Regions from separate parts of the Homo sapiens genome. Here region 1 is linked to region 2. Evidence: fine-mapped expression QTL. A gene starts in region 2. The other region holds a variant in brackets. All regions are shown on one strand. Distances are between the middles of the regions.

Region 1 (12,817 bases), 27 kb after region 2:
GGCTCAAGCAATCTTTCCACCTCACCCTCCTGAGTAGCTAGGACTATAGGCATGTGCCACCACACCCAGCTAATTTTTTCTTTAAATTTTTTTGTAGAGAGAGGGTCTCCCTATGTTGCCCAGGCTCAAGATGGCCTTCTAATGGAGCCAATATCTATCTATTCATTCAACATATTGCAAATAAACTTTGGAAATAAACCAGTTATATGAAATAAAGAAGTAAATAAATTATTAAATAAATGGCCTTACTTTATTCTGTCTCCTCTGCAGGCTTCTGCAAAAGACTTGAGACAGCTCACAATGAAGTACTCTGTATTAGGCAGGGTAATATTGATTGCAAGTGACAGAAACCCAATCAGAAACTCACTGGAGTCATGAGGAACACTTATTGGCTCAGGTAACCTAACCCTTGAATGGGCAGGGATGTATCTGGTTTGGGAGGAAATAGTACCAGGTGCTGAAAGTAGCTGTCTCAGACTCTGGTCTGTCTTTCTGTGTCACATTCTTTCACACCTTGGAGGTTGTGGTCATCTGGCTTATCACTGGTCAAGAAGATGCCTCCTTCATTAGTTCCTTGATTTCAATTTGAAATAATGCTGGTCAAAGACTCTGGCCTTCAGCAAAGACCATGGCAATGGTCTGAGAGTGGCAGAAGGCAGAGGTTGACTGCATTACTAAAACGACAAGGTTGGAGTTGGGACAGGTGGGGAGAAGGGTTTATCTAAAAGAAGGTGCTGCTGCTATCAGAAGAGGGAGTGTTTGGGCTGGGGGGACAAAATAAAATATGTCCACAACAGATACATCAATAGAATCATTAAATAAAGCTGGATGGGATGGAAATGAGCAGGGTTCGTTGTGTAAGAGAACCTAAATTAATTATGGTAGCTTCAGTTTAGCTCTCACGTATGTGAAAGTCAAGGTAACATAGAGAAACAGATCATTTATAAACAAAAGGAAGCAATCATTTTCCTATGTGTAAACTCTACTATGATACTTAAATAGGTTTACAGGAGTCATTCAGTGGACAACATCTTCCATAGTGATTTTCAAAAAAGATGCAAACAATTTTTATTCTGTCATATCTTATATCAAAAATTATATTTAGAGCATATTACCTCATATTTCTTTTAGGTCTTCATGGTGTATTTAGGATGATAAATAAGGTGTATCTGGGGAGATAAATCCAGGTATATAGCTTTCAGATGATCAAACCTATTAGCATAACATCCAATTAATGGACTATTAATGATACCATATTTTTATCAATGTGTAAAGGTTATGTTTGCTCCCATTTTGAACTTTTTGTTCAGTGTAGATGACTGGAATGATCATGTTATGTGACGCTGTGTTGAAGAGAGTCACTGAGAAAGAGGTAATGTCAAGTAACAGGGAAAGTAAGAAATGACTGGAACACACTGGGACTTTGCCATAAACATAAGAGACAGGCAGTCAGAACAGTAAAGAATTGTACTCAAGTTGTTTGAGTACAAACTGTTTGACACTGTGACACTGTGATAGGGAAACCAAATAGTGTATTCATTGGCAATGTCTTTTATGGATACCAGGAGATATTGTTAGTCAGCTGTAGTGCAATTATTGTTGATTGGTATATTCTTAATTCACTGAATCCTTTGAATTGTGCTACTCCAAGTTCTAGTAAATACTAGAAAGTATTTACTACTCAAGTATTCTAGTAAACACTAGAAAGCATCCAGCATATTCCAAAAGACCGAGAGTCGTTGACTTAGTAGACAATGAAAATTGTTACCTTAATTGAACTAACTTCAAACTGTATGTGCTGTATCTCTGGGGGCAGAGGAGAGAAGAGTGACTCCATCACAGTCAGGTAGTTCCAAATGTATCTGTTGTGCATATTTGACTTGTCCATAATTGCCTTTTAAAAGAAATTGTCTTTAACCCAAAACAAAACACCTTGAAAATCAGTCTTAGACTGTTGCTTTTAATTTTCTAATATCTCTTAGTATTCCTAGACTTTCAAAATTGTTCTATTAAGGAAATTCTCAAACATCCAAAAGTAGAAAGACAGTATAATGAACCCCATTGACACAATATTCAAATTCAACAATTTTTAACATTTTTCTTGGTTTTTAAAAAATATTTCACATAACTGATCCAAAGGAATTTTTTTACACATAATGTCGCCATAGAATGTTAGACTCTTTTTATTAAAAAAAAAAAACTGATTATAAATATTTGCACATTTATAAGAGGAGTTTTCAGGAATTTGACAGGGCACACCTAGAACCACCGGGGTGGTGCTCAGGACCCACCAGGTACACCAAGGACCCACCAAGCACAGGTCCAGCCCCAGTTGTCCATCTTGCTTTATCTATTATTCACCTTTTTTGATGTCATATTGTTTTATCCATAATTAAGTCAGTAGTATATAAATCGAACAGATGAGCATTTTTAAAAACCACAAACCCACCATTCCATTATCATACCTGACAAAATTAACATTAATTCTATTATTTCACCTATTACGCAGTCCGTGTTCAAATGTCCCCAATTTTCTCAAATATATTTTACAGTCCTGTTGAAATCACAGAGTAAAGTCCACAAATTGCATTTGGTTGAAATGTCTCTTAGGTATTTTCTAATCTATGAAAGTTCCCACTTCCCCATTTTTAGCCGTTTTTTTGTTTGTTGAAGACATTGGTTCATTTGTCCTGTAGAACTTCCGGCATGCCAGATTTTGCTGATCGCATTCTCATTCAACCCATTAATCTAATAACTTGTTCCTTTGTATTTTTCATGAGCTTGCTGCCTGAGTGTGAAGCTTGCTTAGATTCAGATGCATTTATTTTGGCAAATACTCCATAGGTACTATCGCGTGTTTCCGATTGCATTCCATCAGGCGGCACATGAGGTCTCGTGGTCCCATTTTTAGTACTGTTAACACTGATCAAGGGTTAAGTGTTGTCATCTAATCTACCCTTTCACTAGTGTTTTCCTGAGCCTCTGACAGATGCTTCATTGAAAATGAGGTCTGGCGTGCCCATCCAGTGGAAGCATTTTGAGTTTTTTATTGATTCTTAAATGTCCTTTCTCATGGAAGCCTTCCATGTCATCCAATTAAAATGGCAACTCCTCACTCTCTATTGGCTTTCTCTGCTTTTTTCCTTCCTCCATGGAATGTATTAGTATTTCCATCTTCTATAAACACATTACTTATTTCCCCCAACCATTGTGTATGCTCCACAAAGACAAGGATTCTTTTTTTTTAATTAGTAGACTTTATTTTTTAGATCAGTTTTAATTTTAGAGAAAAATTGAGTAGAAAGTACATAGAGTTTCCTTAATGCCCTTTCCCATCTCACCCTAACCCCCCTAAATTTCCCTTGTTATTAATATCTTGCATTAGTGTGGTACATTTGCTACAACTGATGAACTGATCTTTATGCATTATTATTAACGTAAGTTTACTCTTTGTTTCGTACAGTCTTATGGGTTTTGGCAAATGTATAATGTCATGTATCCATATTACAGGATCACATAGGTGATCCTAAAAAATCCCCTGTGCTCCACCTATTCATCCCTCTTCCCTCCATCCCTGAACCACTGGCAACTTCTGATCTTTTCACTGTCTCTATAGTTTTGCCTTTTCTAGAATGTCTTACAGTTGGAATCATACAGCACGTTGTCTTTTCAGACAGGCTTCTTTCACTTAGCAATATGCCTTTAAATTTCCTCCACATCTTTTTGTGGCTTGACAGCTAATTTCTTTTCATTACCATATCATATTGTATTGTCTGGATATATCACAATTTAGTTATTCATTCACCTACTGAAGCCATCTTGGTTGCCTCTAAGTTTTGGTAATGATGAATAAAGCTGCTATAAACATTTGTGTGCAGGGTTTTTTGTGGACACACATTTTCAACTCATTTGGATAGACACCAAAGCGTGTAATTGCTGGATTGTATGGTAAGACTACGCTTAGCTTGTAAGAAACTGCTAGACTGTTTTCCAAAGTGGCTGTACCATTTTGCACTTCTACCAGCAATGAATAAGAGTTCCTGCTGCTCCACATCCTCACCACCTTTAGTGAAGTTTCTGTTTTGATCTTTTGCCCATTTTTAAGTTGCATCGTTTGCTTTCTTAATGCTGTTTTAAGAGTTCTCTTCATATTTTTGATATAAGTCCTTTATCAGATGTGTTTTGTAAATATTGTCTTCCACTCTGTGACTTGTCTTTTCATTCTTTTAACAGGGAAAGTAGAACTTTTTAAAAATCTGTTTTGTTTTCTGTCTTATCTCGAGTGCCTAGAACAGTGCCTAGTTTATAATAGCTGGTCAATCTAGTGAATGCTTGCTGAAAGTGGTCTATATGCCTTAGGTACAGCTAAGAACAAAGTTGACACTTGATTGTAAAAACTAAAGAGCTGATCCAATTGGAGGACTATTTCACTCTTCACAGAATTAAAGCTTTCATTGACCAACAGCTGTGATTTTATCAAAACATTCATAAAATTGAAAGTCTTTCTTCCAAATTGGAGGTAGTCTTAAAATAATCTAATTTATTTTACAGTTAAGACCCTGAGCCCTATTCACAGAATGTCAATCTCTGCTCTCCCAATGACCACTTAAGGCCTAACAGAATGACTCTCAAGTTCTTATTTCTCTGAGACATATTCTCTAATATTTTCTTTTAGGGTTAAATAATGAAGTATTCAGACATAGAAAAGTACAAAAATAATCACATATTCCTATCTTCACCGTATCATAATATTGAACTGATTTTTACATTTTGTCATGTTTGTTTTAACTCTCTCTTCTCCTCCCATCTTTCTTGGAATAAATATTAAAGGAATGGCTGAAGCCTCAGATACCTCATCCCTACCTCCGTCTCTACCTCCATTTTCCCTCATTAGTACCCATGATGGTGAAATTGATGTATAATTCCCATACAAGTGTTTGCAATTTTTAATGTATTTATATATACATAACTAGCGTATTGCTTTTTGTGTGTTTGTAAAATGACACAAATATTATATTAATACTAATCAGATCATTCTGGGTGGTAGACACTGTGGCATGGCCCACCAGATCTTCAGGACAAGGCACTTGCTCCCTCATTTGGAGATGTAAGCTTAGAATAGCTTCCAGTTGAATCTCTCACCAAGAATTCCCTTTGGCCATAAGCCTTGCCCAAAGTCACACACCCTCCCTACAAGCATCCACTGACCATTGACTGGGAGAGGGGATAGGGCATTTATGACATTGGAGTAGGGAAGTATTTATTAAATAAGATTTTAAAATATAAATCACAAAACGAAAATGAACTTGAATATCTTAAAATTTAAAAAATACCTCTGCACAATAAATGAAATTATATAGTGAAAAAGCAAGATACAAACCAGTATATTTGCATAGCACATACAGTTATTAGTAAATAAACAATTCCTATTCCTTCTTCAATAGGAAGATCTGGCCTTCTTGCCTCAACTCAGGGCTACTCTAAAGGGAGATCCCAGCTCCAGAGCTCCCCACAGGCTTGACTGAAGCCTCTGCTGCAACTACACTGTGGTTTAACTTCTCCCTCTGCCAGTCTCGCTTTCCTCACTCCTTGCAGGGTTTTGTTTTGTCATTGTTCTTGTTGTTTTGTTTTGTTGTTGTTGTTGAGACAAGGTCTTTCTCTGTCACCTAGGCTGGAGTGTACTGGTGCAATCTCAACTTACTGCAACCTCCACCTCTCAGGCTCAAGCAATCCTCCCACCTCAACTTCCCAAGTAGCTGGGACCACAAGCGTTTGGCACCATGCAATGGCTAGTTTTAAATTTTTTGTAGAGATGTAGTTGCACAGTATTGCCAGGCTTGTTTCAAACTCCTGGGCTCAAGCTATTCACCCACCTCAGCCTCCTAAGGTGCTGGGATTACAGTCATGAGCCACTGTGCCCAGCTCCTCGCAGGTGTTAATCCTGAAGACACTCCCTAATAAACTTTCTGTATGCTTCTCATGGTCACAGGGTCTGTTTCCTAGGGAATCTGAGCAGTGGCATTCTGCAACTTGCTTTTAACACAGATCATTTTCTAAAGATTTTTCCATGTTGACTTGTATCCAGTACCCTTATTCTAACTGCTACATGGTATTCTATTCTATGGTAAGCCACACTTTATTTATCTAGTCACTCATCAAGTTAGGTTGTTAGTCCTTTTATATACTTACAAAAGTGGTACAATGAATGCCTGTGTCTATTTCCATTTTACACATACTGGAGACATTCTCCAGGATCTGTAACTAGAAGTGGAACAACCTAGATTGTATGTTATGTGTGTTATCATCTTTATTAAGTGATGCTAAATTGTTTGTCAAAGTGATTATAGAAATTTACTCTTTACTAATGATTTTTAAGAGCTCTTCTTCTCCCACATTCTTACCAATATTCTGTGTTGTCAGATTGAAATGTTTTCTTTGCCAAGCCAATGAGTGTAAAGTGTCAACTTAATGTTGTTTTAGTTTTATCTGACAGCTAATGAGATTAACCAATTTTTCACGTTTATTGGTTATTCAAGTTTCTCCCATAAATTGCCTACTCATATTATTTGCTCATTTAAAAAATTAGGTTATTACATTTTCTCATTAATTTGTTGGAATTGTTTATATACTAATAATTGTATGTGCTATGTAATATGCAAATATACTAGTTTGTATCTTGCTTTTTTGCTATATGATTTCATTTATTGTGCAGAGGTATGCTTTAAATTTTAAGATACTCAAGTTCCTTTTCTTTTTGTGGTTTATGTTTTAAAATCTTATGTAATAAGTACTTCCCCACTCCAATGTCATAAAGATATTATTTTCTTTCTTCCGAACTTTTACAATATTGGTTTTTTTTTTTTTTTTTT[A/TTA]CATTTAGGTCTTTTATCTATCTGAATAGCCCATTTATCCAAGACTACTAATTTCTTTTTTTTTTTTTGAGACAGAGTCTCGCTTTGTCATCCAGGCTGGTGTTCAGTGGCGCAATCTGGGCTAACTGCAAACTCCGCCTCCTGGGTTCTAGCAATTCTCCTGCCTCAGCCTCTCAAGTAGCTGGGATTCTAGGCATGCACCACCACACTCAACTAATTTTTGTAATTTTTAGTAGAGACAAGATTTCCCTATATTGGCCAGGCTGGTCTTGAACTCCTGGCCTCAAGTAATCTGCCTGCCTTGGCCTCCCAAAGTGCCGAAATTACAGGTGTGAGCCACCACACTTGGCTAAGACTACTAATTTCTAATGCTGCTTCTGTCATATACCACATGTGTATGTATTAAAGTTGTTAAGTTTCTAGACTTGTCTTTGGTGTTCTGAAGTTTCACTATATGTCTAGCTATGATCTTTTTTTTTTTTTTGTTCAAGAGTAAAGGCAAAATAGACCTTCAGAGAAATAAAGTCTGGGAAATTGACTAGATCCTCACTGAAAGAACTACTAAAGGATGTACTTATGGAAGAAGAAAATTACAAAGTGAAAGAACTGGGATGCAAGAAGTAATGGTGAGCATGGAATTTGGCAAAGATTCAAGTAAAACAAAGCAAGGACTGAGTATATAAAATCATAATCATAACAAATTTTGACTATTATATGTAACAGCCAATCTCTTAACTGGGTCATAATAAGAAAGTGAAAGGCAGAAAAAATGACAAAAAGAATAATTAGAATGTTAATAAGAAGAGTAACAAGATTTTGAAAAATTTGTGCTGGTTGATATCAACTTTTGGCACTTTTCTCTTTTTCTATACTGTTAACATAATTAATGAAAAAATAATAATTCATACTTCAAAAAATTTAAGAAGTTGCACATATTTTCATTTGAAATAGTATAAGCATTTTACAAATGTTATTTTAAGCTTTAAAAAGTGAGTAAAATTAATAACCAAATGGTGGAAGCAACCCAAGTATCCATCAATAGATGAATGAATAAACGAAAGGTAGTATGTTTATACAATGGAATATTATTCAGCCTTAAAAAGGAAATTATGACACATGCTACAACATGGGTGAGCCTTAAGGACATTATGCTAAGTGAACTAGACCAGTCACAAAAGGGCAAATACTATAGGATCCACTTATATGAGGTAATTACAGTAATGAAATCATCGAGACAGAAGGTAGAATGGTGGTTGCCAGGAGCAGGGGTAGGGGAAAATGAGAGTTATTGTTTAGTAGGTACAGAGTTACAGTTTTGCAAGATGAAAAAGTTCTGGAAATGGATGGTTGTGATTGGTGCACAACAATGTAAATGTACTTAATGTCACTGAACTGTACACTTAAAAATGGTTAAGGCGGTTCTTTTTTTGTTATATGTATTTTAACTTTAAAAATAATACTTTTAAAATGTGAGAAAAATATCCTTGAATCTGTTTTATGTTAGTGAGTGAAAGCATCTCTAAGAAGAGAGTCAATTACTTTGTCAAGGCAGTCCCCAGCCTTTTTGGCACCAGGGACCTGTTTCGTGGAAGACAATTTTTTCATGGATTGGGTGGGGGGTGGCGGTTTTGGGATGAAACTGTTCCATGTCAGATTAGATCATCAGGCATTAGATGAGAGCACAACCTAGACCCCTCACATGAGCAGTTCACAATAGGGTTCATGCTCCTCTGAGAATTTAATGCTGCCCTTGATCTGACAGGAGGCAGAACTCAGGTGGTAATGTTCACTCACCTGCCACTCACCTCCTGCTGTGCAGTCTGGTTCCTAACAGGCTGTGAACCAGCGGTACTAGTCAATAGCCTAAGAGTTGCGGACCCCTGCTCCAAGACACCAAGCCCACAGCACATCTGGTGGGGTCAGACATGACCCTTACCCTTCCCTCCCACACCCCTGTCCCCAGCTTCTCATTTCATGGGCCCTATTCACTGGAGCCAGTTTGTCTAATAACTCCAGAATCTGTGCTGCCTCTCAATTAGCACTCCAAGTTTTGGGTCAGGCCCTCATCATTTCTTACTTTGATCAACACATTAAAATCCTGGCCAGTCTCCCTTTTACCATCTATCCTCCACTCTGCAAGCTGAATGATCATTCAAAAGCATGAATCTGTTAAAAAGAAATCAAAAGAAGGAAAGAGGAAGAGATAGTGGTTAGTGACGTGAAATGAAGCAGAATAGTCAAGGAGAAAACGTAGCCTAGAAACACTTATGGATTGGAGTCTTTCAGGAGAAAAGAGTTAGTAAAGTTGTGGAGACGGAGAAGCCAGATAACAAGGAGTGAGAAGAAAGTGAAGAAACTAATATAAAATTGCCTGTTCTCCTGGCATTATCTTCCCCATTTGTTTGCCTGGCAAACATTTAGTCTTTAAAATCCAATCCAATGTCATCTTCTCCACAGAGTCTTCTTTAATATCTGCAGGCAAAGTTAAGAGCTTCCCTTGCAATACACCAGCGTGCCTTGTTCATGCTTTTACTACGGAATTTATTACATTTCTCTAATTATTTGTTTTCATCATTTTCTGTCACTAGACTGTGAGCCACTGGGGAAATACACTATTTTCTATTTCTCTTTATACCCCCAGTTCCCAACATGATGTGAACAACATCTGTGCTGGTTGAATGAATGAATGGTGTTGAAAGCATCTACATCAGGGGTGTCCAATCTTTCAGCTTCCCTGGGCTACACTGGAAGAAGAATAATTTTCTTGCACCACATATAAAATACACTAACACTACTGATAGCTGATGAGCTAAAAAAAAAAAATCGCAAAAAAATCTCATGTTTTAAGAAAGTTTATGAATTTGTGTTGGGCCACATCCAAAGCCATCCTGGGCTGCATGCAGCCTGCAGGCCATGGGTTGGACAAGCTTGACTACAGCTTTAAAGTGATCTTAATCTAATCAATTCTTCCCCATTCAGAAGAAACCTACTACATCAGAGTCTATTGAGAATCTATCTCCCTAATCACCCTCAGGCACAGGGTTATTATGTATTGATATCATACACACTAAAAAATTCCATCATACAGGTCTAGAAATACTTCCATAATACAGTAATATTTTAATAGAGTCATAACACACAGACAGCCACCCATTCTGCCTGTAGCCAGTCATGGAGCAATACATTTTGTACATAACCTGTAATTTCTTCTGGAGAGTGTAATTACAATGCCAATATGACATTTTATTTTTATTATTATTATTTAGTTAGTTAGTTAGTTACTTTTTGAGACAGAGTCTCACTCTGTCGCCAGGCTGGAGTGCAGTGGTGTGATCTCGGCTCACTGCAACCTCTGCCTCCCGGGTTCAAGTGATTCTTCTGCCTCAGCCTCCCGAGTAGCTGGGACTATGGGTGCCCACCACCACACCTGGCTAATTTTTGTATTTTTAGTAGAGATGGGGTTTCACCATGTTAGCCAGGATGGTCTAGGGGTTGATAAACTACAGTGCACAGGCCAAATCTGGTTTACTGCCTGATTTTGTAAATAAAGTTTTATTGGAACACAGCCTTGCCCATTTATTTACTTATTGTCTCTGACTGCTTTCATGCTACAATAGAGTAGTTGCAACAGAAACTATAGTCTGCAAAGCCTAAACTATTTACAACCTGGACCTTTAGAGAAAGTTTGCTGACTCTTTTTTTAATGGATAAACTAAAAGTATGTAAGTAAACATGATTTCATGTCTTATGATATGTCAGGTGAATGGTACAATCCTTTGGTTTAAGTTCTTAGTATTATACCTAAAGTATATCTACCATGAAATGCATTTTCCACCTTTCATAGTCTCAGCTGGTTAATCAAAATAAATGGATTCTATGGCATAATTCAGGATGTTACCATTTTTGCTTTTTAGATCAGCTCTTCACCCACTGTTTTCCTGTCATACACATGGTGTTCTTAAAATTGTAAATGAAAACTCATTTGAACTTACATTAGTAACTTCTGTTAAATTATACTGGATTGCTTATTAAGTAAGCATTATTATCCACATTAAATCTGTCACAGATGAAAAAATTACACATAAAGGAGACTGCTTGAGGCCCCAGGGCATGCTGTAATATACATAGAGGCTCCTGAATACTTGGTTTTCCATGTGGATCTCTGATTTTGCTGAAAGAAGTCTGTAAACTGATGTAGTCAGACAGCTCCCCACTGGCTACACATCTCTATAGAATTTAGAAGCATTGTTTATTTCAGCAGAGGTCTGGAATGAATTTTCCTTATAATTTAACTCCTGAAATGACTGTTTCAAAAGGTCAACTGTGGTGAACTTGCATATGTGACTTGCAGTCACAGCTAAGTCACGATCCCTTAGTTTTTCCAGAAGTCCACTAGAACGTTAGCTCCATGGCACTGTTATCTTGCATCTCCAGGTCCTGAAACAGCCCTTAGTGCATACTAGGTATTCAATAACTTTTTTTTGAATAAATGTTTTATGTAAATTCCATCACAAATATGGAAGATCTTAGAGGGGATTTTTGAAAACCAAAGAAAGTTGAAACTCCTTCACATGGAGTTTGGATGTTGAACTTAGAGGCTTGACTTAGCCATTTTTAAAAAACGAAATGTGTGTGTATGTTTATTTAAGGTACCTTAGTGACAGGTACAACCTACAGCCCAAAGACAATGTACAAAACCCAATGAGGGGACAAGCCTCCACTCTTTTATAAGATGCAGAAATTTGCAGGAGTCTATCACTCTTACTCTAACCATGAGAACAGACCAGAAGCACTACAAATGACAGTTTTATTTGTTGTTGCTTTCATTTGCATGTTTCACACTCATCAGAGAACCCAGGAGCCAAAAAAAAAAAAAAAAAAAAGAAAAAAATCCCTCAAATTAACTACATTTCCAAAAGGATCAAGCTCTTCCTAGAGAGAAGAGTCCCACAGCTGCTTTTGTTCCTAGGGACATGTTGGAAGGAGCACAGAAGAGGAAGGGAGAAACCAGCCTATCTTTAAACAAATTTTGGATGATTGTATATGGGTTGGCATAACAGAGTAGAATCACAAGGTACCCCAGGAATAGAACTAGTCTGTACCCACCCAGCCTCCATTGAGTGGATGGGAGTCGTACACTGAAAGCTGGTGCCAGGGTAGGAGAACTGAGAAATACCCTCCCCAGGTACACCAGGTCTTCCCAAAGTACAAGAAAGTAGCCCACTGAGCACAGGAAGCAAGGCAGGAGAAGCAAGAGGGATTCTCCAAGGCATGTGAGGTTCATCCATTGCAAGGCAGTCCCCATTACACACTGGGGGTAAGGCAGGAAAGCTGAAAGAAATCCCCTCCTAGAAAGCACGAGGCTTTCACCAAATGCAAGGCAGCAGCCTGCAGTAGCCAGAGGCAAAGCAGGAGAACTGAGAGAAATAGATGCTCCCGAAAACCCTTTCAACTCTCCAATCCCCTCAACCCTACCCACCCACCTCACCCCTACCTCCACCCTCCCTACACAAGGTCTCTACTGAGTACATTGTAGCCACCTATTGAATGCTGGAGGAAGAGCTATCTTAAGGCTCTGAGATGTGGAGGCAGAGTTTAGGCAAAGAAAAGGCCCCAGCAACCCAAGAAGTTGGTGGCTGGGCTGTAAGGCATAAAGAGAACTCCCACAGTTTGGAAAGTTGGGGGCTGGGCTGTGTGAAGCTTGGAGAACTTTCCAGAGTCTTACTGTCTCTAGGATTCCAAGATACACTGAGAGAAAAGTACTGATTCTACTTTTCAGATATTAAAACCAGCCATGAACTGAATCACAATAAGCTGTGACAAAGCTCAGACCCAGCCCAACTACACAGAGATCAGATGGGCCCTGTCTCCAATCACAGGGGACTGACAGAACCAGGGCTTTGCCATTTTATAGGCATCAGTATTATTTGCTTCAGTCACTATCGTTG
Region 2 (12,817 bases):
CACCCTAGGGCCAGATGTCCTATGCTCTCCACCACCCCTGCTCCTTCCTGGGAGGATGTGAACCTGCTAAGGAACTCCCAAAGAAGTTCATGTTTGATTTTGTAACACACAACCCAGGTGCACTGACCCCACATTAAAAAATGGCAATTTCCATACTAAGGCAGACTCACAGGCTATTCAAACCAGTATCCGGTTTCAGGAAAGCACACCAAGGGATGTTTGCAGGAGGCTATGGTTGTCCTCAAAAATGTAACCTGCTTTGAATGGCTTTTGAAACATCCTAGTTTGCCATTGGGTCCAATACAGCTCTGTAAATGTATCTTTACCTCTTTTGCACCTATTTGTATTTTCAATCTTTATCCACTTTCAAAGATAACCCATTCCAAATATGTACTGTCTACTGTCTGAAGCAATAAGTATTACACCTCTTCAATGTTCAAAGCCTAAAATACAAATTCTCTTTGTCAACTTGTTTCATATCACTGTGTGAGTTTCTGTCCTTATCAAAATTAAGAGGAAAAAAACAGCCCCTACCTCTATTAAATCAACTGAACTTTCTCCAATTTTATGTAGAACAGCACCATATAAACTTTTATGTAACCCCAATCTCCCTGAGTGTTTTAGTGTTACATTAAATAAGTAGTAAGGGTAAACAATGAAATAAAGGCAAAAATAGAAAAATAAGAAAAAAAAATTTAAGAAGATTGGAATTCATTTTGTAATGTAAACAACATGAAAAAACTGGAAAGAAATATCTCCAAAATTTTTATTTTGGGTGAGGATGATGGACAAATTATTTTATTCTTTATTTTTTTCCCCATATTACTAGAATTTCTATACTGGGTAAATATTATTATTCTAATTATTTAAAGTTATCAAAAAAAAAAACCACTGTGAGAAAAACGTGTAAATGTAGAGTTAACTGGTCAAAAGAAGGTTAAAAGGCAACAACAATAACAAAAAATCTTTAAAAACAATCAGGCAAAGGTAGCCAATCATGCAGGAGAGCCTTACCAAATGTTGAGACCTAGGCCCTCGGAGGAGTAAGCCAGCCTCCAGCTTAGCTGTTTCGGGGACAGATAATGAAACAGGGACTAGAACATGCAGCCCCAAATCCCTTACATCCCCTTGCCACGGGGTGGCCCATTCTGCTTTAGCAAACAGTCATCCTTAGACAAGGAAGTCATAAAGGTAGCTCTGAATAAAGGCCTGGAAATCCTACGTGACATGCTCTACTGTTTGGAGGTTGTGCTCTGAAGCAGAAGGCTGAGGTGCCCACACTGAGAAGCGAAATGGCCACTCAGGGAAAACACACTTGGACTCTCTCTAGCTCCTGGCATGTATTAGGTGTTCAATACATATTTATATAAAAATGGCACTTAAATGAATAATCATGATGAAATGTGTAGGTGGTCAAAGAGGTACCACGAACCTGGGCAGTAACAAGAGGAGAGACCCATGGGAAGGCTTCCTGGTAGAGGTGATACTTGAGCTGGGTTTAAAGGATAAGTAGGAATTTGCCAGGTAGATAAAGTGAAGAGCAGGCAGGATTCCAGGCAGACACAAAGTCAAGACGGAGAAGCTGAGCTGGAGCAAATGGCTTAGCTTTGTGGAAAATAAAGTTGAATGGAACCTTGAGGAAAGGGTAGAATTTGGATAGAAGTAGAAGGGGAGGAAAAAGCAGAATAAGCAAAGACATTGCAGGAAGAAATGGAATGTGAGACTTTTATTCGTTCAGTAAATATTTATTGAAATATCTACTCTGTCCCAGGCCCAGGGCTAAAAGCTTGAGGTGTAAGAAAGCTTATGAGTAACTCAAACCACAGATAACAACCCCATGAGACTGGTACTCTTCTCCCCACTGTGGAGATGACAAAAGTGAGGCTTTATAGTGAGGAAGTAAACCACCCAATGACACAGAGCTAATAAATAGCATAAATCTAGCTTTTAAGTCTGTGTTATTATAGCCAGGCTTTGGAGCACACTGACTGAGTTGTTTGTTTTTTAAAATCACAGTCTCAGAGGATGTGGGAGAATCCATGCAGTCCCTATTCTGTTACTCAAATAAAAAATCATGAACACTGCTTGCTTTCCTTTTATGAATTTTTTTCTGACCTGGAGGATAAATATGTGGGAGTCATGAGTTCTTACTTATAAATGTCCCAAGTATTTTGGAACAGTTACTAAAGGGACAAGATCAGACTCTGGAAACAGCCTGATTACACCAACTGGCAACTGAAGTCCATCCACTTCAGAACGTGCTCAGATAGATAGCAAGGGGAGCAGATCCAGTGGCCATCTGAGAAAGGTCAGTCGGGTCCCACCGAAAAACATTTTGCAAAAACAAAGCCAGACTGAGATTCATGTGGAAAATGTTAAACACGCTCTATGCTGGAAAACTCTGAGACTCCTACACTGCTGACTGCCTGCAGTAGACTATTCGGTAAATGACACATCTTCCAAAAAGCTGAGCTTAATTATTCCGAGGTTGTCTAAAATCAGCACTTGAATTGGCCAGGTTCTCTATCATGTGCCAAGTGAAGTTCATCTCTTCTGAAAATAAGGAAGCTTTCGGCCCTCACGTATATTTCTAAACACAAACATATACATACATACCGTTTTGACAAAGAACAAAAATCCTGCTTAACTTTTTCTTCTGAGATTAACCATGAGCCATTAGGTAAAGAAGGGAAAAGAGTGTTTTTTAGTGTCACTGAAAAGTCAGTTAAATCTATAGTAGTTCTTCCTTTGCCATACACTTTAAACCTTTACTTTTTTTCCTCCCCCAAAACAAGAGGCATTTCTTTGGACTTATAAAAAGCTACAATTATGCCAGTTGGTGGACCAAAAAAAAAAAAAAAAAATCTTCAAGACTGTAATCAGAAATAACATTAATATAAATTTTCTCCATCATTAAATAAGAAAATTAGTTTTTCCTTTTAAATTTATTTTTTAAATCCTTTAATTAGAACATAGTTCTAATGCATGAATTTATACAATCCTTCCACATCTATTTTTGCATTCCAATTGGAAAGATAGCTCTGGTATAATCATTTGTGATTATCACGATGCCTCACATAAAAAGCTGTTATTGTATTTGAAATGTCTAAGGTAGACAGGGATTCTTATCTCCCAAAAAGCAACCCATCCTCTACCTCCATGAAACTGCTTTCTGTGGAGAAATAAATAATAAGTGCAATCTTTCCTAAAATACTTTTTAACATGTATATTCATGAAATAAAGGGGGATAACTTTATTGCAAAACTTGTCTCTAACTGAAAATTCGAGTTGAGGTGCAGTTTCACCTCAGGACTGTTTAATCAGGGGGCTGATTAAGGAATATTTTAATCAGCCTAAGTGAACCCAAATGAGTTTTGTTTTAACAGGCCTGAAATGATTTTTCTTCTTTTTTTTTTTTTCAATACACAATGTTAGGGTTTCCCAATTAACATTTCCTTGGAGATGAACCCAATTAATTGTTCAGCCCCCAACAGCAATAAATGCAGTCTTCTAAACGCAATGAATCAGGTGACCTCTCACACCTGGGTACATCCCAACTTAGTAGCATTAACAAGAAAAATGGACTTAAGAAAAACATTAAAAATATGACTCAAACATTTACTTTTAGGGCAGAAAAAGAGGGATGGAAACTTATACTACTTTCCAAAAAGTAAAGTAATGGCCTCTTATAGAAATTAAAACTGCAAACAGGCTAGTATTCCCAGGCCATTTTACAGAAACATTTAAGACCATCCCAAACTAAAAGAAATGCTTGCCTTGCTGAAATGGGAAATGGTTCTGTCTTCACCAGCCTATGAAAACCAACGTCCCAAGTCTGCATATCTCACAGTATCTCTTCCAAGTTCCAGATTTGTTTATCTGAGATAGCCAGCTTCTCCAAACAAACTGAAAACTAGAGGCAAAGATACCTAAATCAAACATTTAAATATATCCTTCAAGATATAACACAGTGCTGTGGCAGGCAACTCGATGAACAGCATGAATTAAATGTTGGAAAAAAGTATCATTGCAAGGTTAGGCATCTTTACCCTTGTCTCACGGATAAATCCCTTTAAAGTTCTGTTGGCCTGTGGGTTCATGTGCTCACTTTTCAGTACACAAAGTAAGTTCTTCAGATCCCAAGTTTTCTAAAACCGAATACAAGCCGCCTCCGCCAAATACTTTTGAAAAATGTTTAATAATCTTTGTTTTCTTTATTAAGGGCCCAGCTTTACTGGAGTATGGTGCTCCCTCAGCCAAGGGCATATCGTTTCCAACTCCCGAATGGGTAACTAAGCAGGCTGATTTCTCATCTTCTGGAAAAGACGACAACTACATCTGGGAAGATGAGCCTCACACTCTGCACTTACATGCACTTCCTTGACCATATAAATTCTGGCCCACCACAAAGAGGGCCAAACATGAGGCTTGTCATTCTTATATCCCAATCTAGTTCCCAAAGTCTTTACTGCAGTGGTTCCTGGGGTGGGGGCAGTGGTTTCCGGACCAGCAGCATCAGTATCTCTTGGGAACTTGTTACCAATGCACATTCTCTGGCCCCAGCCCAGGACCTACTGAACCAGCACCTCTGGGAACTGAGGCCCAGCTCCCCAGGTAAATGATGCCCTCAAGTTTGAGAACTAGTGTTGCACTGCAGTCGCTGTCAAACCTTGTTGTACCCTCAGAGCCTGCAGGTGGCGCTAAAGGCCAGAAGGAAGAATTGCAGGAGCTGGTAGCTCAAGTTTTTAACTGTTAAGAGTTCCTGCCCCCCTGACCACACAGCTCTTTCTAGCAGTTCCAACAGCTGCTCAGCCTCCCCCAATGCCTTAAAAGGTCACAGTAGATCTCAGCTCTGAACAGAAACTCAACTGAAACTCTTCCCACAACCCAGCAGTAGATATATTAAAACCTACAATTTTCAGGGATACAATCAATATTTAATTCTTTTGAGGGTTTTGTGTTTAATACAAGGACACAAACACACGTATAAAATGACGATGTCAATACTGATTAAACAGAACAACAAAATAAGAAGCTCAAATTATCATCAGCTATTGTGTATATCTGAAATAACAATAATGCACTTGATTCTGAAAGAATGATTAGAGTTCCTACTCTGAAAATCTAATTGTCTTGATGTGACGAAGTGAGAAGAAAGGATGATTTTTCTAATGAAAAGCATGTATACGGGTAGCCCTTTGCGAGATTCTGTCAAAACCCTGAATTTTGCATTAGCTGTTTTACCACCCAAACGTTTTTACCGAGGATGTGCAGCAATGGGAACTCTCATACACTGCTTGTGGGAATATAAATCAGTATAACCACTTTGGAAAACCATTTAACATTGTCAACTACAGCTCTACACACAAGTACTAGAACCAGCCATTCCACTCCAGGGTATACACCCTAGAGATATGAGTGCCCATGTCTACCAAAAGCCGCCTAAAGGAATGCTCTGAGAAGTGTAACTTGTAATAGTTGCAAACTGGAAACAACCCAAATGTCCATCCACAGTAGAGATACATAGTATGGATACTCATACAATTAAACAGAAGCAGCAATGAAAAAACTAACCAACCAACCAAACAACTGCTACAACATGAATGAATTTCACAACAAGGATGAATCTTTCAGAGTGAAAGAAGCCAGACACAAAGGGTACACTCTTATTCAAACAGGCAAAACTAATCTCTGGTGACAGAGGTCAGCATAGAGGTTCCTGGGGCTATCTAGGAACAGGCATGAGGCGTTATTGGAAACAGTCTACATCTTGAACTGGGGGATGGTTACTAGGGTGGTGTATACGTATGAAAAGTTCAGTGAGTTGCATACTTAAAATCCGTACACTTTATGTATGTTTTATTTTTAGAGGCAAAAAATATTATTGACAGCCTGTCATGTAAACATTTTCAATAACCATCATAAAACTCTAAATTCCTGGGAAAGAATATTGTTATCAGAGTATATTTACTGCCACAAACACTGCATTTGCTGAGCTAAAGTCAAAACTTAATACAGGGAACAGGAGATGTTCCTTTTTTCCAATGTTACATATATAAAAAGACCAAACCTTTCTGGCTTGCACTCCCTAGGCCAAATTCCTTTAACTGTGTCATTTAATCGGTCCTTCCTTGTGTGGCACTGGCTGTCCACTGTCCCAAGCCCTCGCATGTCCTGGATGGCCGGTCATCATCCACACGGGGGCTGAAAGGCCCGGCTCCAGCACTCCTGTGGTCATCATCCTGCTGAATCGCTTTGAACTACCCTTGGCCTAACCGCGACTCCCATCCCGCTTCCCTCCTGCCTCGCCACTGCAGGCCTGTCCCTTTGCTTTCTTAAAACTGCGCACCGTCTGAGGCCACTTCGAGCCTACTGGATCCCTGGTTCCAACCCAGTAGGATCACAGAAGCAGGGCCAGCTGCCAGGTAGGGGACACCAAGGGCAGAAACCTCCGGGGCCCGCAGCGCACCGGTGACCGCGAACCCGCGTGGCTCCCCTCAGGCTGAGTCGGCTTCCACCCTCCCACCCGAGCCACCGGGGATCAGGGCCCGGGAAACACGCTCGGTCCTTTTCGGCGCTTCCGGGTTTGAAAACCGCGGCTTGCTATGACGTGTGACCAAAATGCGGGGCCAGCTGTCCCAGAGAGAATCCCATCCCGCGCCGGGCCGGGTAGTGGGAGCCACCGGGGTGGGGGGCGGCGCGCCCGGGGTCGCGGGCCGCTCCGCCAGTTCTTGGGCCGACCCCGCCGCCCGGGCGCGCGTGTTTACCTGAAACCAGGAACACGTGCTGCCGGGCGCCAACCCCGTCCCCGCAGTCCACGCCAGCGGCCATGCCGCCCGCCTCTTCCGGGGCGCCGCAGGCTCAGCGCCGCGGGCCTCAGTCTCCCAGCCCCGCCGAAAATGGCGGGAGAAGGGTCTGTTCCGGGTGGCGCGGCGCGCTGAGGGACCGGCAGCGCCCGGGAGGAGGCCCAGGGACCGAATTTCGTTTCGTTTCCGAGACCAGCCTGCTGCTCGTGTTACGTTTTTAAATTTAGCGCCAGGCGAGGGGCTCTGAATGCCGGCCGGTGGCCGCAGGCAACGGGAAGGGGCCGCGGCCTCTCCCTCGCGGCTCCGCTAGTGGTAGGTGCTCATCGCGCGCCGCAGGGCGCCGAGTGACGCGGAGCGGGGCGGGGTCGCCGGGGCCCCGCGCTCTGTGGCTGCACCCAGCGGCCCTCCATGGTCTAGCCAGCGGGCTAGGATTGGGTCTGCGGGGTGTGTGCCCGGACAACGGGTGACGCCCGCCACACCCCCGGGGCCGGGGGACTCACCTGGAGCTAGTCCGTGTTAAGGACAATAGCAGTCACATCGGAATCCGAATGCAACTCTTAGCCATGGTCCTCAATTATTTGTGAATATATATTGGTCATCAGTTGCATTCTGTGTTGCTATTGATGTGAGAATATGTGTGCATTGTGAGCTACAAGGGATGTCCTCAATTTGGACTCCGTCCTCATCACTAAAAGAGGTGCACAGTTTTGGGCTCAGAATATGAATTTGTTGTTTTGGAGAACGCTGTATACTGAGTTAAAAACTTAGACATTTATTTAAAAAGTGATGTTTAAAAAGTTAGAGCCATGAAATTTGGGGATTTAAACTTTTAAAAATAACATTTTAATTGAAAAGTGTTGTTTGGTACATGGTTTTTAAGAAGAAAGTACATATTCCTTTCATACTTTAGAGAAAAGCACGGGCCAGGCGCAGTGGCTCAGGCCTGTAATCCCAGCACTTTGGGAGGCCGAGGCGGGCGGATCGCCTGAGGTCAGGAGCTGGAGACCAGCCTGACCAACAAGGTGAAACTCCGTCTCTACTGAAAATACAAAAATTAGCTGGGTGTGGTGGTGCACATCTGTAATCCCAGCTACTACGGAGGCTGAGGCACAAGAATCACTTGAACCCAGGAGATGGAGGTTGCAGTGAACCGAGATCCCACCACTGCACTCTGGCCTGGGCTACAGAGCTGGACTCTGTCAAAAAAAACAAAAACAAAAAAATCCACAAAAACCTATTTTTTTTTTTTTTAAAGAAAAGCATGATGTATCTCTTTTATCCCAGATCCCAGGGGTAACTGTTAACATTTCTTCTCTATTCTTGCAGAATTTTTCCATGCAAAAACAAGTTAATGTCTTATTTTTGCACAATTGAAAGAATAATATACATAACTCATGCACTTTGCTTTTCATGTTTAATCTTGAAGATAGTTAAATTTAGCAGCACTAAATTTATCTCGGCCCTCTGAAAAGGTTTTTAACTTCAAACCTGTTTCCCATGGGGTGAGACCAATACAGCTGCAGTTGATTGCAGGACACAGCTGGTGGAGAAGAGGCCTTTCTGGCTGAGGAAAGGCGCCTCTTGCCAGTTTTGGGGCAAGGAGCAGCAGATTGGTACTGCTCTGATCTTCCCTCTCCCCCAAAACGACTGTAGAAGATGCTGTGGTGTATAGCACAAATCCCCAGGCACACCATCGTCTTACTAACAGCTACAGGAGCACCCCATTATTCCTGTAGGATGGGATCCAAAACCCCCAGTGAAGGCCTAAAACCGCAAATAGTACCAAACCCTAATATACTGTTTTTTCCTTTGCATGTATATCTGTGATAAAGTTTAATTTGAAAATTAGGCCCAGTAAGAGATGAACAACAATAATAATAAAATAGAACAATTCTCACAGTATGCCAGCATCACTACTCTTGCAGCTACTAAGTGACTCATAAGGAGGGGACCTTCTGCAGTGTGGATCCGCTGGACAAAGGTAGAATTCAGGTCCTTTGCAGGACGAAGCTGGATGGTGCAAGATTTCTTCACACCACTCAGAACACTGTACAATTTAAAACTTACGAATTGTTTCTGGAATTTTTCGTGTAATATTTTTGGACCAAGTTCGACTGGGGGTAACTGACACCTTGGAAAGCGAAACTTCGAATAGGGGGAGCTACTGTACATGAGAAATGTTACCCATGATTCCCTTGCTCAGACATACATACCTGTTTCATTTTTCTCTGATCCTTTCTAGCCCTTGGCTGTATTAATGTATATTTTTGTGGTTGTTGTCACAATTTAGACTGTTTTGTCTGCTTTTCTCACTTAACATTGTCATAAGCATGTGCCCCTTCATATCGAGAAGTATCATTGTTAATGAAGGCATGATATTTAACACAGCTGGTGTACTAGGGTTAGTTATCCATTCCCTAGTGTGCAGTATTTAGGTTATTTCAAACTGTTATTATAAATAATGCTACCATGTGTATTGTATATGGGCTATGTATACAGCAGTTTGACACAGTGATTGGTGTACATATACAAACAGATGCTTTGTATCTAAAGAAAAAAATTTAGATGCAGGAAATTATTTTTAGCAGAATACCATGTAGGTAAATTTAAAAGGCACAAAGAACAACACGATGTAATTTACAAGGATACATGCATATTTAAGGCCATGTCAAGCACATAAAGAAATGGGTGTCTTTACATACATGTGGCCAACAAACATATGAAAAAAGTTCAACATCACTGATCATTAGAGAAATGGAAATCAAAACCACAATGATATACCATCTCATGGCAGTCAAAATGGTGGTTATTAAAAAGTCAAGAAACAACAGATGAGGCCGGGCACGGTGGATCACGCCTGTAATCCCAGCACTTTGGGAGGCCGAGGTGGGCGGATCACCTGAGGTCAGGAGTTCAAGACCAGCCTGACCAACATGGAGAAACCCCATCTCTACTAAAAATACAAAAAATATTAGCCAGGCGTGTTGGTGCGTGTCTGTAATCCCAGCTACTCGGGAGGCTGAGGCAGGAGAATTGCTTGAACCTGGGAGGCAGAGGTTGCAGTGAGCCAAGATCGCGCTATTGCACTCCAGCCTGGGCAACGAGAGCAAAACTCCGTCTCAAAAAAAAAAAAAAAAAAAAAGAAACAACAGATACTGGCAAGACTGGGGAGAAATAGGAACTCTTTTACACTGTTGGTGGGAATGTAAATTAGTTCAACCATTGTGGAAGACAGTGTGGTGATTCCTCAAAGATTTAGAGCTGGAAATACCATTTGACTCAGCGATCCCATTACTGGGTATATACCTAAAGGAATATAAATCATTTTATTATAAAGATACATGCATGTGTATGTTCATTGCAGCACTATTCACAATAGCAAAGACATGGAATCAACCCAAATGCCCATCGATGATAGACTGGATAAAGAAAATGTACACATACACCACAGAATACCATGCAGCCATAAAAAGGAATGAGATCATGTACTTTGCAGAGACATGGATGAAGCTGGAGGTCATTATCCTCAGCAAACGAATGCAGACGCAGAAAACCAAACACCGCATGTTCTAACTTATAAGTGGGAGCTGAACAATGAGAACACATGGACACAGGGAGGGGAACAACACACACTGGGGCCTGTAAGCGGAGGGTGGTCGGGGAGGAGATCATTAGAGAAAAGAGCTAATGCATACTGAGTTTAATGCTTAGGTGATGGGGTGATAGGTGAAGCAAACTGCCATGGCACACGTTTACCTATGGAACAAACCTGCACATCCTGCACATATACTCTGGGACTTAAATAAAATATGGGTGTCTTTAATATGGAGAGGAATGGGAGAAAGCATGGGTAAGGAATGAGGGGCAGGAGAAATTAAATGAGAGGCCCAGGCTCGTACGGGTAACGGTTGCTATACTCTGTGAATGAGAAAACAATGAACTCTGCCCTTTCTGTAAATAATTTCCTTTATCATTAAAAAAAATTATGTAAGTACCTTTTTGAAAAGGATACCATTACTGATAGGCTGACTCCAGATCCCTGTTGTCTTCAAGGTAAAGTCTAAGGTGCTAAGCTTTGAACACATGGCCCTTGAGATCCGGTCCTGGCTGGACTCCCCAGCTACAGTTCCCACCACCTATGTCGCTCTCCACCCAGTCCACAGTGTGGCCACAAGGAACTGCCTGTGGTTCTCTTCTCTGTCACATCTAGCACTTGGTATTGTGTCCCCAATGCTGAGACCATCCTGTTCTCCACAAGCATCATTCCTTCCCTTCTCCCTTACCCTTTACCACTGCCAGGACAACTCTCACTCATCCATCAGGTCTTACTAAGTGCCTTCTCTTCCTGCCTCCTAATACTCTTCCCAAGAATAAGTGAGATGCCTCCAATTTCACCAGTGAGAGGAACCAGTCAGTTCCTTGAGGGAAGAATAGCATCTAGTAATTCACCACTATCTTGTCAAAAAATAACAATGGCTTCACTGAGTATTAACTATGCTGAGCACTGCACTAAGCAGTTAACTCGAATGACCTCTTTCAGCCCTCCCACAGCATTAAGGGTAAGTATTATTTAGTCACCCACATTTTACAGAGGAAGAATGTAGAGTCGAGAGAGATCAAGTACCTGCCTATGATGACATGACTAGCAAGTGGCTGAGCAGGAATTCCAACCCAGGCCTTAGGACTCCAGAGACTGGGCTCTTCACCTTCCTTCCCTCCCTGGTGTCCCCATGCCTGGGACAAAATAATATGGAAACATAGCATGTGCTCAGCAAATATTTTTTGAGTAAATATTTATGCGGATAGCTAAGCTGTCGTGGCTTGTGGTATTCCCAATTTTATAAATCAAAACAAATTGATTACATCTAGTATATCATAAAACAGTCTGTGAATTACTTGCAGTACTAGTCTGTACTAGTTCTGTACAAAGAATAAGAAGGGAGCAGCAACTTAACACCTCTTGAGTAGAAAATTTGAGACTCTTCTAAATGCTGGAAACAATAGATGTTTGGTTTTTAGTAAAAAGAGAAAAAAGAAAAAAAAAACTGGGTGGGGCACGGGAGAAGAATTCAGTGCCAAATAACCTTCAGCAATGCTTAGTGGTAATTAGAGCAGACAGACATTGTATTAAAGGTAGTGGAAGAATATTTTCTCCTCTATATTATTAAAAATCTGTAAGATTGCTTCTTTCAAAACAAAATTAAAATTAAAATCCATGTTTATCATCATTTTTCTCAGGAGAAAAAGTTGTTCTCTTCTACCAAATTTTCCTGCCATCAAATGCTCATTGAGTGACAATAGAGAAAGCACCATCATCCTGAAGCATCAGATTGGGAGAAAAGTCCGCTCTCGAGAGCATCAACTATGTAGAAAGGGGACCAGTGAGTATGAGTAGCACTGAATCATTCTTTCTGGGAAGAATATTCCCTTTCTGTTCTCTCGTAACCAACCCAACCTAAAACTGAACTGTACTTGGCAGTGTGAAAAAAAGGCACACATAAACTTGTGAGATCTGCCCATCGTAGCATAAGAATGACTGAAGCTATTGAGGAAGGAAAAAGGGCAGCACCTGACACCCAGAAGCTGGCCTGGCTCTCATAGGCAGACCCTGCGATTCTCCCATTAGACATGAACCATCTCACAGAAAACCAGCCTCTGACCGGGCTACTTTGAGACCATGATTAAATAAGACCATTCATAATTTTGTGTGAGCACAGACAAAAGCAAGTCACTTTGCCACCCATGAAGTACCAAACATCCTATCTCTTGGCCAAAATGAGTGCTCCTTCTTTACCAATGACAACTTTATTCTCACTATAGTTTCCCCTTCCTATAAGAGTAAGTGAGATCTCCCATTACAGAAGTGCTCCACTTTCTAACAGCATCCAATCTAGAGGGAATCCCCGCTGCCTTAGACTCTACCTCAAATCACTCAATCAAAGCCCAAATCCTATAAGGTCCTTTCTAACACCCTCTTACTGAAACACCCATGATTTCCGTGATGTGTGTTC

What was found. PIP is the estimated chance that this variant, and not a neighbour inherited with it, causes the effect.
Region 1: its variant is the best candidate, but not a certain one, in a credible set for the expression of RNASEH2B in monocytes after LPS (Fairfax 2014, PIP 0.50).

Annotation. Positions count from the first base shown.
Region 1 is chr13:50,877,189-50,890,005 of GRCh38, reverse strand. It overlaps RNASEH2B-AS1 (RNASEH2B antisense RNA 1), which reads left to right. Exons shown (of 3, transcript NR_046552.1): 2 at 271-397; 3 at 7,361-7,628. Among named protein-coding and RNA genes, the nearest start is that of RNASEH2B, 26 kb to the left of the region's middle. The variant A/TTA (reference allele first, on the strand shown) is at 6,870.
Region 2 is chr13:50,904,091-50,916,907 of GRCh38, reverse strand. It overlaps RNASEH2B (ribonuclease H2 subunit B), which reads right to left and starts at 7,117. Exons shown (of 11, transcript NM_024570.4): 1 at 6,768-7,117. The coding sequence starts at 6,831. RNASEH2B-AS1 (RNASEH2B antisense RNA 1) reads left to right here and starts at 6,196. Exons shown (of 3, transcript NR_046552.1): 1 at 6,196-6,425. RefSeq lists an enhancer at 1,916-2,005 and silencers at 6,363-6,412, 6,623-6,862, 6,873-7,302.